Linked DNA regions of Homo sapiens. The protein of the gene in region 4 purifies or fractionates together with the protein of the main gene of each other region. This does not show direct contact. Each region holds a gene or a part of one and is shown on either strand. Other genes may lie near its edges.

Region 1 (4,490 bases), on a different chromosome or scaffold from region 4:
TAAAATATCAGTCCTATACATTATCCTTTCCAAAACACATTCACTAATGGTGTCTAGGCAGACACTCAAAAGAGAACAATATATCTAACAATTTGAATAAATAAAACATCTTTTCTATTAATAGAACTGCAGTTCCAATATAACAAAATATTTGGGTAAAATGATTATATTTAACCACTTTCCTTTAAGGTATTTGTTTCACTTAAGTCTACAGATATCAGCTAGACTTCCCAAAACAGAATTTGAAAACAAATGGAGAAAGCATGAATTATATAAAAAAAATTAATCTCCAATACAGCAAATAATGTTCCACTATTTACATAACTAGCTGATTCTGAATATGACAGAAACATGAAAAAGGAAACAAATGAAAATGTTCTGGTCATCCTTACCGAAAGAGAAAACTAACCTGAACTCGCCGTTCTTCTTTGTTTGCATCTACCTTATCAGACATCAGAAGAGGCTCGCTTTTCTCACAGCTCTCTTCACTAAGGAGCGTGTCTGCGTAGTTGGGCTGGGGAAAGATCAGGTGACTCTTCCTCGAGTCCGCGGTGAGGGAGACCTCGTGGGAATAGGTCTGCAGGAAAGCCCGAACCCCATCCACGCCCACAAAGTGCGAGGCGGGCACACCCGCCAACCTGCTGCCTTCAGCCTGAAGCAGGCGTGACTTGTGCCAGCGCCTCAGTCTGAGCACCAGCAGCACGATGACGAAGGCCAGGAAGACGCAGGAGACTGCAGCCACTGCCACCACAAGATAGAGTGTGAGGTCCAGATCCTCAGGGTCAATGGGGGTCTTGATACTGCCTAGGTCAGCCAGGATGTCAGGGATCCTGTCGGCCACGGCAACGGTGACCGTGAAGGTGGCTGACAGAGGGGGCTGGCCATGGTCTTCGACGGCCACCACGAGGCTCTGCTTGAGCGCGTCTCTGTCCAGCAGGGCTCGCGCTGTGCGCACCTCGCCCGTGTGCAGCCCAACCGCAAAGAGTCCTGGCTCGCTGGCCTTAAGCAGGCGGTAGGACAGCCAGGCGTTCTGGCCTGAATCTTTGTCCACCGCTACCACCTTGGTCACCAGGTAGCCAGGTTCTGCGGAGCGAGGCGCCAGCTCCACGCCCGTGGAACCGTCTGTGGGGAGGGCGGGGTACAGGATCTCAGGCGTATTGTCGTTCTGGTCCAGCACAAACAGGCTCAGCGACACGTTGCTGCTAAGTGGAGGGTTCCCACTGTCGCTGGCTGTCACCCACAACTGTAGGTCTCTCAACTGCTCATAGTCGAAGGATCTCAGAGCATACAGGACACCGGTGTCAGAGTTAATGGATACATAGGAGGACAAGGGCGCCCCCTGAAATGTGTCTTCAGCCAGGGAGTAGGTGACTCGAGCGTTGTCGCCGCTGTCGGGGTCATGGGCTGTCACAGAGAAGATAGAGACACCTCTGGGATTGTTTTCTGTGACAGAGGTGGAGTAGGAGGCTTGAGGGAAATTGGGTGGGTTGTCATTAACGTCTGCTACTTTCAAGGGGATGTGGCTTTCTGTAGAGAGGGGCGGGGTTCCATGGTCCATGACGGTTAAAGTGATATTATAATCTGAAGTCTCTTCTCTGTCCAGGTCCCTAGTTGTTAATAGGTGATAGTAATTATCAACTGACTTCTCCAATTTAAAAGGCAAATTCCTAGGAATAGAGCATGCAATCTCACCATTTTCTCCAGAATCACCATCATGTACGCTAAACAGCGCGATTACAGTTCCGGGAAGACAGTCTTCAGAGATCGAACTGGTCAGAGAGGTGAGGATCACTTCGGGGGCATTGTCATTCACGTCCTGTACTGTGACCACCACCTTAGCGCTGGCAACAAGAGCGCCTCCATCCTGAGCTACCACTTCCATGAGGTAGAATCTGGATTCTTCATAGTCCAGTGATTGTAGAGTTGAGATTTCCCCCAGGTTGGAATCAAGTTGGAAAGTCTCCGAAATTTTTTCTTCTTCATTGCGAAAAGAGTAGGTCAATTTCCCGTTTATTCCCTCATCTGGATCCGTGGCGGTTAGCATGAGCAGCCGAGTGCCCACAGGTATGTTCTCTGGAACACTCACGCTGTACTCGGATGGGGTGAACAGGGGCGCATTGTCGTTTGCGTCGAGGACCGTAACACGGATGTGCGTGGTGCCGGAGAGTACCGGGTCTCCGCCATCTAAAGCTGTGAGGAGGAGGTCGTGAACAGTCTCTTTCTCGCGGTCTAGGGGCTGTTCCAACACCAGCTCCGGATACTTTTGTCCATCAGTTCCGCTTACCACATCCAGAGAGAAGTGCAGATTGGAGCTGAGCTGGTAACTCCGGAGAGAGTTCACACCCACATCCGCATCCCGCGCGAAGGGAAGCACTAACCGTGTCCCTGCAGCCGCATTTTCATTAACTTTTACTTTTAACTCTTCATCCCGGAAACGCGGGAAGTTATCATTAATATCGATTATTTCTACTTCTACTCCATAAATTTTCATTTTGTTCTCAACCAAGATGTTAAAGTTCACCACACACAGTGGGCTCTGAGCGCAGAGCTCCTCCCGGTCTATCCTGCCCGCGGTGACCAAGCTGCCGCTTCGCGGGTTCAGGGCAAAAAGCTGCGTCCTACCTCTGGAGACGATGCGGACTCCGCGCTCCGCCAGCTCCTGGGGCTCCAGCCCAAGGTCCTTGGCTATGTTGCCGACGAAGGAGCCTTTGTCCAGCTCCTCCGGCATCGAGTAGCGGATCTGCCCGGATCCTGGCTCGCACAGCGTCCCCAGGAGCATGAAGGGCAGCAGCAGCTCTCCGCAGCCCCAGCCCCTAGGTGGACTCGCCATTGCCTTCTCTCTGCCCAATTTTCTCTTAGTTCTGGTTCAGCCTGCTGTTTCCTTATTTATCTAAAGCCGATGGGTACATATTCCCTGACGAAAATGGGCGTGGAGCGTTGGCTTTTCGTAGGAGCTTGTCTGGTCTGTGTGTTTAGTATGGAGGGAGCAGAGTCGGGTCGCCTCTGCGGCAGCTTCTTTCCCACTTTGGTCAACAGCGACACTCAGAGTCCTAACCAGTGACTGCATCAAATTCCATTTTTATTTCTCCTAAGTTTAGTTATAATTTTATTTCTAATAATGTTGCCATATCCTTAATGTTTAACTGTGTAGCGTTGTTTATGACCGTTAATTCAGCTTTAATTCTGAATAGCAAGACTTCCACAATCCCTGAGATCAATATGATTATTAGATCTCAATACCTTACAAAAATTTTATTTAATGCGTCATCGGGGGAGCCTATGTCCTTTATTTACCTCTTATCTATATTTAGTCCATTAAATTAGGACATTCAAATTCTTACCTTTGTAGGATTCAAGATTTCATCTCCTTATTAGGATAAATTTAGGAAAACGTGCTTATTTGCATATAAGAATACCAAGGAAACAAACCCAGTTCTCCATGCACCTTTCCAAACAGGCCTACTGATTTATGTAAGTTATATTAGCTGTCATATGCAGAAGAAATAAAGATCTTTGTTACTTGTGAGGACTTTGAGAAAGTCTCTCCACTATCTCAGACAGCGTTTGAGTTGGGTTAACTATGCATTTTTATGTTTTTCTATTACCATGTTCAAATATTTGTAGTTCCAGTGACAACCAGTATAGTAACTGTGGAGGATGGGGTTTTATTTCATCATCCATGCAGGAAAGCATGAGCAGATACTTGTCGAGAAGTACTGAGTGACCTTTCTATGTTGAGACAGATATTTACTGCTATCATCTTTATATGACAACAGAAATAGAAAAACCTCTTGATTGAAAAAAATGGACATTTCAGAAAGTCATTTTATTTAATAACACTTTCATAGAAAACTAAGAAAATAAAAATTCTATATAATTAGGAAATTCAAAAGCAAAGTTTTAAGTAATATTTTGTAGAAAATGATGTGAACATAGGTTGTAAGATTTTTCTCAATGTGTAGTTTTTCTTAAGAGCAATTTGTTAAAATGCATGTTAGAGAATGATTTCTCACATTTGTTAAATGCACTCTTTCTAGCAGACACCTCAGACCTCAAACATTGCCTGTCCTTTAGAAATACATTTGTGATTCCAAGACATTTAGCTTACTGAGTGTTGGTCTTCAAGTCAATGGGACAATGTCCTACCCATGCCCTGTGATTAACAAGCCATGCCATTATGCAAAAGTCTTTCTTCTTTGTTTCCCAATTTCCAAAGCCTACTAAAATGAAGACTCTCTTTACTCTGAAGTATTATGATTCTAAGAGGAAGTAAAACTAAAATTTGAATAACAAAGAGCCTGAAGGTGAAACTAATTGCCTAAAGTCTCAATAGCAACAAATCTGCAGAGAGAAGTAATGTAAAGATGAGGAAGAAAAAGAAATACAGTGCAATATCTCATGTGATAAAGGTTTGCAATCATGGGTAAATAAATCTCACACTTCAGAGAGAAAACACTTAAAATTCAGTTAGATAAGATTAAGACAATTAA
Region 2 (3,746 bases), on a different chromosome or scaffold from region 4:
GATGTTACCAGTATCTTCTTAAAATAATCACTCTGCTTTTGTCTGTCAAGTAAATTGCATATAGCAGTAAACAGATTTCATCAAATTTAATGCAATACCATAAACCTTAAATAACACCATGGGTCCCATATGACGTGCCACTGGTGATGCTGCAGGTGCTCCCAAGAAGCAGAGAAAAAAGACATTACAAGAAAAAGTTGATTTGTTTGATATGTACTGTAGATAGAGGTCTGCAGTTGGAGGTTGCCCCCCAACCCCATTTCAGACAGAGGATTCATCTTGTAATCAAATTATGTAAACTTATAGTATTGATAAATGCAGTGCAGTAGTGTAAATGTATTTTCCCTTTCCTACGACTTTCTTAATATTTTCTTAGCTTTATTGTAAGAATATAGTACGTAATATATTAACATACAACATATCTGTCAGTTGTTTATGTTATTGGTACGGCTTTCGGTCAGTAGTAGGCTATTAGTAGTTAAGTTTTTGGTGAATCAAAGTTAGGTGTGGGTTTTCGACTGCACAGGGGGTTGGTGCCCCAACCCAAGTATTGTTCAAGGGTCAGCTGTACGTCCAGATTTTGCAGGGTTCAATTTTACTGCAAAATGTCTTTTAGTTAATACGTAGGAGATTTAGATAAAAGGTCATAAAGCAAGGAATGTCTTTTGATTAATATTTTCTCTTTCTAATGGGTTTCAATTTTGTGATTCCCACAGATTTTGCTTAGATGACATTCTCATTAAGGTAAAAATGGATATAGCTCATTTGTATTGAATAGCAAAAATGTTAGTTTTATAACCCAGTCTTGTTACGAATGAAGCACCTCAGCACATAGAAAACACTAGAGTTGAAAAGCTGAAAGTCTTTTCAGAAACTTCTTACTTTTAGAAATAACGGGGTGAGATTTTTTAATATTGAGATTTAGAACTGATTTTTACAGGTGAGGATGTGGATAGACACAAAGCGGTAAGCAACTTGCTCAGGGTTACACAATCCAGTTGTGGTAGAATCTGACCTAAAATCCAAAATCGTTACCTAAAATTTTACTGTGCATTAATGAGGAGTTATACTAGTAACACAAATTTAATGTTAGGTATTTAATAAAGATTTAAAATGAATCAAGACAGGCCAGGCTTTGTTTCTGACAAGTTATGTTTTTTCTATTTGGATTTCCTAGAGTAGTTCAACTAGGTGCAGAGGAATGGGCCTGTGACCATGGCCTTTAGATCAGACCTGGTGTGGGCTCACCCTGATGACAGGTGACTAAATCAGAGTTGAGGTCACTGCTGACACCAGGTTTCTAGAGAGAGTTAGAGGTAGAGATACCACCATTGGGGAAAAATGGCTACTAAGTTTACTTTCTCCTCTTATCAGCAAGAGGATGTCACCTCCTGATGCTGACTTAGTTCAGAACCAAGGAGAGTCTGATTTTTGTAAAATACTCCTTCAAAGCAGGTTTGGCAGAGTTTCTTAAAAGGGCCAGGCAGTAAATATTTTAAGCTCTGAAGGCCAAGTGGTCTCTTGTTACAACTCATCAACTCTGCCCTTGAATGGAAGGAGCCTTAGGCTTTGTGTAATCAAATAGTGTGGCTTTGTACCAATAAGACTGTACAAAAACCAGGTAGCCAATGGGCCCCTGCCTTAAAGCAATTCTGATAGCGTAAGCATGTGCAGGATAGTGAAGTTAGCCCCAGTTATAAGGGTATAATAAGGATTGGACTATATTCTCAACTTTAGTAAGATCCCACCTATTTTAAGAGTCACTGGTGGATGTATGTTATGGCAGCTTTGCACACCATTAAGTAACCAGGGGTTTAAGGATCTCATCCTGCTCTGTGTAGTTACTTCTGTATCAAAAATTGACAGCTCTTGTAACCAATCTATAACTTATCTCAACTCACCCTTGCAACCTTGATATTACTTGGTGATAAGTAGTCTCCATGGAAAACCAAAAGTGGCACCCGTGGGAATATAACTGAACATTTATTGCTTTTTACATATGCTGAAATACGGAGATATTGAATAATGACCAAGATGACACTTGTGTTTTAGAATAATTCTTCTGATTAGAGGTGGGGCAGGAAGGGCAGGGGAGGAGTTAGGAAGTAGAATTGAAAAGTATCCTGGGTTTATTGATTGTGGGACTAGGAGAAGAGGCATTTAGGATGACTCCTTAATTTCTTTTTCTTTTTTTTTTTTTTTTTTGAGTCTTGCTCTGTCACCCAGGCTGGAGTGCAGTGGCACAATCTCAACTCACTGCAACCTCTGCCTCCCAGGTTCAAGCGATTCTCCTGCCTCAGCCTCCCAAGTAGCTGGGATTACAGGCGCATGCCACCATGCCTGGCTAATTTTTTGTATTTTTAGTAGAGACAGGGTTTCACTGTGTTAGCCAGGATGTTCTTGATCTCGAACTCCTGACCTGAAGTGATCTGCCCACCTCAGCCTCTCAAAGTGCTGGGATTACAGGCGTGAGCCACCATGCCCGGCTGATGACTCCTTTAATTTCTAACTTGGGTGCATTTGTTAATCTTAGCCATGAAGGAAGGAGGGCAGGTTTTTGTGGGGCATGTGCTAAGTTCACTTTGGATATGAGTTTTGAGTATGGTGAGAGGGAAGTTGTGGGGCATCCAGAGCCCGGGAGTAAACACTAGGAAGAAAGCTCTGTGAGGCTGTTCAACTGTTGAAGCTCTGCTGTTTGCCTAACTTGATGTGGCCATTTTAGTTCCTTTAATGTCATACTCTGCTGTTAGGAATGTAAATTTATGGAGTCTTTTTGCACATCATTTTATATCAAGAGCCTTAAAAATACTAACTCCTGGCCAGGTGTAGGGGCTCACGCCTATAATCCCAATATTTTTGGAGACCAAGGTTGGCAGATCACTTCAGGTCAGGAGTTCAAGATCAGCCTGACCAACATGGTGAAACCCCATCTCTACTAAAAATATAAAAATTAGCCGGGCATGGTGGTGTGCACCTGTAGTCCCAGCTACTTGGGAGACTGAACCAGAAGAAGCGCTTGAAGCTGGGAGGCAGAGCTGGCAGTGAGCTGAGATCATGCCACTGTACTCCAGCCTAGGTGACAGAGTGAGACTCCATCTCCAAAAAAAAAAAAAAAAAAAAAAAAAAAGTATTCCTTCTCACCTGGTAATTCTGGTTTTGAGAGTTTATGCTAATTTTTTTCCTAAATTATAGACAGATTTTGAACACAAAATGTTCATCACAAAAACAAGTGAGTGTCTAAATGCCCAGTAGTTGGGAAATAGCTAAGTCACTGATGGTTACCTAAGATGGAATGATGAACATCCACTTTGTACCCCACAAATATAGACAATTATAATTTGTCAGTATTCAGCTTAAAAAAAGTAAGATGCTAGATGACTTTTTTTTTTCTTCTCTTTTTTGGAGACAGGGTTTTTGCTCTGTTACGCAGCCTGTAGTGCAGTGACACAATCATAGCTCGCTGCCCCCTTGACTTTCTGGGCTAAAGCAATTCTCCTACCTCAGCCTCCCAAGTAGGTGAGACTACAGGCATGCACCACCACGCCTGGCTCATTTTGTTTTTTTATTTTTTTGTAGAGAGGATGGTCTTGCTATATTGCCCAGGCCGGTTTTGAACACCTGGCCTCAAACAGGCTTCCCACCTTGGCCTCCCAAAATACTGGGATTACTGGCATGAGCCACTGCAACTTTGTGTTAAGCAAAACGGAAATGTGCCAAAAGGTTAGAAGTGGTTCCCTCTAGAAGAG
Region 3 (3,746 bases), on a different chromosome or scaffold from region 4:
ACCGGTAATCCCAGCACTTTGGGAGGCAGAGGCAGGCGGATCGCTTGAGGCCAGGAGTTTGAAACCAGCCTGGGCAACACGGTGAGACCTTGTCTCTACAAACAATTTAAAAATTAGCTAGGTGTGATGGCGCACTCCTGTAGTCCCAGCTACTCAGGAGGCTGAAGTGGGAGGATTGCTTTAGCCCAGGAGGAAGAAGCTGCAGTGAGTCCTGTTTGCACCACTGTACTCCAGCCTGGGTGACAGAATGAGACACAAAAAACAAACAAACAAACAAGCAAACAAACAAAAACTGCCCAGGGGTACACTGGGCTAAGCCGGGAAGTAGTGAGCACCTGTCTCTATAGGCTGTGAGCAGCGATGGCAGAGCCCTAGATGAGGTCTTCCAGAGAGGGTTGATGTCTTGATTGATGGTGGTTATTGGGGAGTTGACAATACAGGATTTAAGGCCCTTTAAGGCCTAGTTCTATTATGACAGATGTGCGTGGAGCCCCTGAATGGAGGAGGATGGGGACTTAGAGACCAGCTATTGTTAACAGACTTGTTTTCTGGCTCATTTGCAGTTATTTTCACTGGCTGATTTCATTCTCTTAGTCATATGGGAAAGTACCTTCTAAAAAAACAAACACACTAAACATAGTGTTTGACTCCATCACTTTCTGCAGTTGCTATGAGCTTCATCCCAGAACACAATGAGCCATGCTCGATGCTCTAAACGTCAAAGTTGTCAAGTGGTTTAAATTGGAAAAGCCTGTGTGTGTGTGTGTGTGTGTGTGTGTCTGTGTGTGTGTGTGCGCGCGCGGGTGCATGTTTTCATTTTGCATCTCTTGGGGTCATCATGGTGTCTGAGTCACCACAGCAATCATCTGTAAGCAACAGGGTTCCAGGAAAAGAGTCTGAAGACATCTCCCTGTCTCAGCTGGCCTGCCCACCTGCCCTCAAACCATGCTGCACTCCACTCCTCCTATGTCTCTGCAACTTTTCTGGTTCAGGCCACACTTAGCTCTCCCCACGCTCTGCCCCTTCCATTTCATTTCCCTCCACACCAGCAGAAGAGAGTTCTAGGAAGCTAACGATTGTAGTACAAACAAGAGAGGCCATCAGAGTTCTTTGGGAGTTATTGCATTATCTTCAGGCACCCCTACTCCCACAAGACTAAAAGCTACCTGAGGACAAACATCTCTGTCTCCCATGGTCCTTCACAAAGCCCTGCACCTGTCCAGTGCTGAAGACATATTCGTTGAATGAATGAATGAATGAATAAATGCCTAGCATTATTATTAGCTTTGATAGCCGTAAGTCAAAAGCACTTGTAGAATAAAAGCTAACCTGTAGACCGGGTGTGGTGGCTCAGGCCTGTAATCCCAGCACTTTGGGAGGCTGACGTGGGTGGATCCCCTGAGGTCAGGAGTTCGAGACCAGCCTGGCCAACATGGTGAAACCCCATCTCTACTAAAAATACAAAAATTAGCCAGGCGTGGTGGTGGGCACCTGTAATTCCAGCTACTCGGGAGGATGAGGCAAAAGAATCGCTTGAACCTGGGCAGTGGAGGTTGCAGTGAGCCGAGACTGTGTCACTGTACTCTTGCCTGGGCAACAGAGTGAGACTCAGTGTCAAAAAAAAAAAGCTAACTTGTAGGAAAGCTTGTGGAATTCATTCCTATCCTCATTCTCCATTTTACAAACATGAACTTCATCACATAGCCTCATAGCAGGTGTTAATGTAAGATAGAGCTTTATGAAACATGTTTTTGTATTTTCCAAAAAACCAATATGAAAATTAATACGAACAATACCAAAAAGCAAACGGCAAGCTGGGGGAAAATATATTTGCTTCATATTAAACAAAAGGCTGATTTGTTTAATAGACAAAGAGTTCCTCCAATAAAAAAACAGAACAGGCCAGAAAATGTGGAAAGAGGAGAGGAATAGACAGTTCACACAAAAGGAAATACTAATGGCTAATACACATATAAATAATAACAAAACTCACTTATAATTATAAAAAAGCAAATTGTGGAAGGAGATATCAGTTCTATCAGATTGACAGAGATTTAAAAGTCTGAGAATTCCCAGTGTTGACAAGATGTGGGGAGACCAGTGTCCTCACACAGAAGAGAAGTTACATTGGTATACCCTTTTTCAGTTCAAGACCAGCCTGGGCAACATGGTGAAACCCCGTCTCGCCTAAAAATACAAAAAATTAGCTGGGCATGGTGGCATGCACCTGTGGTCCCAGCTTCTGGGGTTTGGGGGAGGACCACTTGAGCCCAGAAGGTGGAGGTTGCAGTGAGCCACTGCACTCCAGCCTGGGTGAAAGAGTGAGACCTTGTCTAAAAAAAAAACAAAAAACAAAAAAAAAAACCTCTATTAGCGAAGAAAAACCCAAAACCCCCAAAACGGCATAAAAATTCAATAAGACATTGAGTAAATAAATTAGAGACATACAACAGACTACTATTAACACCATCCTTGAGGCTACTGTTGGCCACTTGTCACTGTACCTTATAATAGAAGCTTTGTTTTGTTCTTACTGCATACCAGGCACAATGCTAAGCTCTTTACATGGATTATTTCTTGCAGTCTTAATAATTGTGAAGCAGATACTTTTATTATCCCCATTTTACAGATGAAGAAGTGCAGACTATGTTAGATTTATAGGGCTGCCATAATAAATGACCACAAACTGGATGGCTTAAAACAACAGAGATTTACTCTGTCTCAGTTCAGAGGACCAGAAGTCCAAAATCGAGGTGTCAGCAGGGTTGATTCCATCTGGAGGCTTTGACGGGGAATCTGTTCCATGCCTCATTCCTACCTTCTGGTGTCTGCTGGCCATCCCTGACAGTCCTTGGTTTGCAGCCACATCACTCCAATCTCTGACTCTATCATCATCTGTTCTTACTAGTTATGCTGCCTATATAGGTTTATTTTAAGCCATCTCAAGCCTTTTTAAGGGCGTGTGTCCACTCTTCTTCTTAAGACACCAGTCATAGGGTAGTTAGGACGTACCCTAATCCAGTGTGACCTCATTTTAACTTCATTAATTACATTTGTAAAGACCATATTTCCAGAGAAAGGTCACATTCTGGGGTGCTAGGTGGGCATGACTTTTGGGGGGGACCCTGTTTAACCCAGTAAGTACACTGACCAAGGTCACAAAGCTAATAAGTGGTAGAGCCAGGATTTACATCCAGGCAGGCCATCAGTACTCATTACCAGTACTCCATGCTGCCACCTTCCCATAATATAACAGCTCACGCTTACATAATATCCCAGGCACGTCTTAAGCATTTTACATATAAGAACTAATTTCATCCCCACAACAACCCCAGTTTATAGATGGGGACACCAGGCACAGAAATGTTAAAAGTTGGCTGGGTACGGTGGCTCGCACCTGTAATTCCAGCACTGTGGGAGGCCGAGGTGGGTGGATCACCTGAGGTCAGGAGTTCGAGACCAGCCTGACCAACATGGCGAAACCCCATCTCTACTAAAAAATACAAAAATTTGCCAGGTGTGGTGGTGTGCACCTGTAGTCCCAGCTACTCGGGAGGCTGAGATAGGAGAATTGCTTGAACCTGGGAGGCGGAGGTTGCAGTGAGCTGAGATCGCCCCACTGCCCTCCAGCCTGGGTGACAGAGCGAGACTCTGTCTCAAAAAAAAAAGAAAGAAAGAAATGTTAAAAGTTACCTGAGATTACAGAGCCAGTAACTAGTAGACCTTGGATTTGAATCCAGCAAGGT
Region 4 (3,746 bases):
CAGAGCAGCAGGCCCCAGTAGCACTGTGGATAGAGGGAGCTCAGAGAGCTCTGGGTCAGTGTCGGGACCTCAGGCTCCTTCGTGGAATCCAGAGAAAGGGGCGTAGCCTCGAGAGCATTCCTGGGAGGATCCTGGGAGGGAGGGACTGTCAGGAGCTGGGCTAAGGGCCCCTGCGAGGCTCTCTTCACCTGCTCCTGGGTCCTGCAGCTAGAGCCTGTATTCATGGCCTTCTCCCCATGCCTGCTCCCCACCTCCCGTATCTGTCTCTCCAGTTTGGCCAGCGGTTCCACCCCTATGTCCAGTACTGCCTCCGAGTGAAGCAGACCATGGCTTACGCCCGAGAACAGCAAGAAACTAACCCTCTCTTCCATGCCTTCGTGCAGGTGGGAGAAGGGGTGCTGGGGAGGGGGACGGGTGCATCTTAGCCGGCCGGTCTCCAGCTGAGCCTGAGGCTGAGTTCACCACTAGGCAGGGCAGGAGGGAGCAAACCCTGAGCCCCACCCACCTTCCCTGCAGTGGTGTGAGAAGCACAAGCGCTCTGGGAGGCAGATGCTCTGTGACTTGCTTATCAAGCCCCACCAGCGCATCACCAAGTACCCACTGCTGCTCCATGCTGTGCTCAAGAGGAGCCCCGAGGCACGAGCCCAAGAGGCCCTGAATGCCATGGTAGGTGCCCCAGTGGGGCTGGGACTCTGGTGAATCGGGGACTGGGAGGGGGGTCTCTTTCTTAGTGTGTCTGTGACAGTGTGGCGCTGTGCTGTGGCTGGCATTGGTTGGGAGGGGACGGCTGAGCCGTCCCTCCTCCCACACCCCCAACCCCACCTAGATTGAAGCCGTGGAGTCATTCCTGCGACACATCAATGGGCAGGTCCGCCAGGGCGAAGAGCAAGAGAGCTTGGCGGCTGCAGCACAACGCATCGGGCCCTACGAGGTGCTGGAGCCACCCAGTGATGAGGTGGAGAAGGTGAGAGGGCAAAGGGAAGGGACCCAGGAAAAGCAAGGTCCCAGGGATACTGGTGAAGGGGAGGGCTGCAAGGCCAGAACACCCCGTACTTGGGTGCTACAAGGGTGTCCATCATTCCTACCTGGTGGTGACAGTCCAAGGGGTACAGGTCAGAAGAGCAAAAAGGAGGCCCTGGGAGGCTTTCTCTAGCCCATGGGGGAAGGATACAAACAGAAAGGTGTTGGTGGCAGAACCAGGAGCCGCCCTTGGCCAGGAAGTCCAGGCAGACTGCCGAGCGCCCTGACCCCTCCCCTCTGTGTCCCTCAGAACCTGCGCCCATTCTCCACCCTGGACCTGACGTCCCCCATGCTGGGGGTTGCATCTGAGCACACCAGACAGCTGCTGCTGGAGGGGCCTGTGCGAGTGAAGGAGGGACGAGAAGGGAAGGTGAGGGTGCTGCGGACAGAGTGGAGGGGATGGGGCACGGTGGGAGAAGGTAAGAGGCAGAAACGCCGGAAGTGGGAGAAGAGGGGTTTGGGGAAGAGGATGTGGTTCTGGCTAAGCCCCAGTCATTTGTGTGACCCTGAGCCAGCCACTTTGCCTGCCTGTAAAGTGAGAGATGTGACCAAAGCGACGCCCCTGGCCACTCCCGCATTTGGGCTCTGCGTGTGTCCCTGTGTGCCTGCGCACCATGCCTGAGCCTCCTCCCGGACCAGCCCTGCCCCTGGCTCCAGCTGACCCTGTCTCTTTCCCCTACGCCCCCACCCCCAGCTGGACGTGTACCTGTTCCTCTTCTCTGATGTGCTCCTTGTGACCAAGCCCCAGCGCAAGGCGGACAAAGCCAAGGTCATCCGACCCCCTCTCATGCTGGAGAAGCTCGTGTGCCAACCCCTGCGAGACCCCAGTACGTCCTTCCTTCAGGGAGTCTTTTCTTCTCCCTCTTCTCAGCGAGGGGAAGGAGGAGCTGGGACGGAGATCAAATAAAGGCTGGCCTCTTGAAGGTTGTCTCCTCCATCCAGACAGCTTCCTGCTGATCCACCTCACTGAATTCCAGTGTGTCTCCAGCGCCCTCCTTGTGCACTGTCCCAGTCCTACAGACCGTGCCCAGTGGCTGGAGAAGACCCAGCAGGCCCAGGTATGGGAAAGCCAGCAACGGGGAGGCATGGGCAGGGGTCCCCGGAGCTCAGAAATGGGAGCACAGTGGTGGATCACACCTGTAATCTCAGCACTTTGGGAGGCTGAGGCAGGTGGATCACCTGAGGTCAGGAGTTTGAGACCAGCCTGGCCAACATGGTGAAACCCCGTCTCTACTAAAAATACAAAAATTAGCCGGGCGTGGTGGTGTGTGCCTGTAGTCCCCATTACTTGGGAGGCTGAGGCAGGAGAATCACTTGAGCCCGGGAAGTGGAGGTTGCAGTGACCTGAGATCGTGCCACTGCACTCTAGCCTGGGTGACAGAGTGAGACCCTGAAGAAGAAGGAAAAAAAAAAGAATGTAGGAAGGAAGGAAGGAACGAATGAACATGGGAGCGCAGAGGGGAGGAGGAGAGAGGCTGGGGTGGATTCAGTTTCAGACTGGACAATCTGATGTGCCCCAGAGAGGGAGGCAGAGCCTCCACCATCCATCAGAAGACAGAAAAAGCCTTTGGCCAGCTACTGTGCCAGCCACTGGGAGAGCCCAAGATACAGCATCCCCTGAAGGTTTGTACAGCCTGAAATGATTAACTTCTAGAAGTCATCTTCCATTCGCAGACATTTACAGGGCACTTGCTGAGTACGGCAGGCACTAGAGCTAGGTGCTAGGGAATCAGAAAAGAGTAAACCACCATTCCTGCCCTCAAGGCCTAGGTGCTGCAGCCTGGTTGAGTAATTAGTATACAAACAATAGAGAGAAGTTATGTAGAATGAAGCTGGGACAGAGAAGGGAGCAAGGCATTGTCTGCTGGGTCTGTTTGGAAGGGACACAGAGGAGCTGATGTCTGAGCACCATTTGGGAGGATACCTAGGAGTATGTCAGGGAGTCAGGGTGGAAGGGAAGGGCATTCCACATGGAGGAGCAGAACGTGCAAAGGCGGGAACTGTGAAACAGTTGTGTGTGTTGAGAGAACTGCCCCCATTGGTATTGCTACAGTATCAAGTACAAGAGTAGACGCAGCAGGGAGAGGCTAGGGGGTAGGTGCCACCAGGTCATGCCCATCTCTGCATGTCATGATAAAGCATCCTATAGATGAGCTTTGTCCTTTGGATGACAGAGGGCCAGTGAAGGAGTCGGGCAGGGGAGTGATGTGAGCAGATAAAAAGCAGGAGGAGTTCAAAAGAAGAGAGATGCAAATGGAGCTGTATTAGGTCCCACAAACTTGGTGGCCTAAAATGCATCAGAAGCTTACTCTCTCACAGTTCTGGAGGCCAGAAGTTTCAAATCAAGGTGTTGGCAGAGCTGAGTTTCCTCTGGAGGCTCTAGAGGAGAATCCATCCTTGCCTCTTCCAGCTCCTGGTTGCCCCAGGCGTTCCGTGGCTTGTGGTAACAAAATTCCAAACTCTTTCTCTGTCTTCCCATGGCCTTCCTCTCTGTATGTCTCTGTGTCCAAATTTCCCCCTCCTTTCTCTTACAAAGATGTGAGTATTAGATTTCGAGCCCACCCTAAATCCAGGGAGAACTCATCTTGAGCTCTTAGGATCTCTGCAAATCTGCGAAGACTCTTTTTCGAAATCAGGTCACATTCACAGGTTCCAGAGGGTAGGACTTAGATATATCTATCTTTTGGGGGGGCCACTATTCAACCCACCACAGGAACGGAATGGCC

The links. The genes of interacting proteins can lie anywhere in the genome.
Region 1: the proteins of PLEKHG6 (region 4) and PCDHGA5 purify together in Homo sapiens (affinity purification with mass spectrometry; 2 studies listed by BioGRID and IntAct, with this or other methods). This does not show direct contact.
Region 2: the proteins of PLEKHG6 (region 4) and CARNMT1 purify together in Homo sapiens (affinity purification with mass spectrometry; 2 studies listed by BioGRID and IntAct, with this or other methods). This does not show direct contact.
Region 3: the proteins of PLEKHG6 (region 4) and TMOD1 purify together in Homo sapiens (affinity purification with mass spectrometry; one large-scale study listed by BioGRID and IntAct). This does not show direct contact.

What each region holds. Positions count from the first base shown.
Region 1 is NC_000005.10:141,362,671-141,367,160, reverse strand, and holds the start of PCDHGA5 (protocadherin gamma-A5 isoform 1 precursor), read right to left. Parts: upstream 3,000-4,490; 5' UTR 2,831-2,999; coding exon 410-2,830; coding exon of another isoform or gene 389-409; exon of another isoform or gene 1-388. UniProt on the Homo sapiens protein: Potential calcium-dependent cell-adhesion protein. May be involved in the establishment and maintenance of specific neuronal connections in the brain.
Region 2 is NC_000009.12:75,021,595-75,025,340, reverse strand, and holds part of CARNMT1 (carnosine N-methyltransferase), read left to right. Parts: intron 1-3,746.
Region 3 is NC_000009.12:97,508,119-97,511,864, reverse strand, and holds part of TMOD1 (tropomodulin-1), read right to left. Parts: intron 1-3,746. UniProt on the Homo sapiens protein: Blocks the elongation and depolymerization of the actin filaments at the pointed end. The Tmod/TM complex contributes to the formation of the short actin protofilament, which in turn defines the geometry of the membrane skeleton.
Region 4 is NC_000012.12:6,317,031-6,320,776, forward strand, and holds part of PLEKHG6 (pleckstrin homology domain-containing family G member 6), read left to right. Parts: intron 1-272; coding exon 273-383; intron 384-468; coding exon of another isoform or gene 469-516; coding exon 517-666; intron 667-826; coding exon 827-964; intron 965-1,270; coding exon 1,271-1,390; intron 1,391-1,714; coding exon 1,715-1,847; coding exon of another isoform or gene 1,848-1,927; exon of another isoform or gene 1,928-1,943; intron 1,944-1,962; coding exon 1,963-2,078; intron 2,079-2,540; exon of another isoform or gene 2,541-2,643; intron 2,644-3,746. UniProt on the Homo sapiens protein: Guanine nucleotide exchange factor activating the small GTPase RHOA, which, in turn, induces myosin filament formation. Also activates RHOG. Does not activate RAC1, or to a much lower extent than RHOA and RHOG.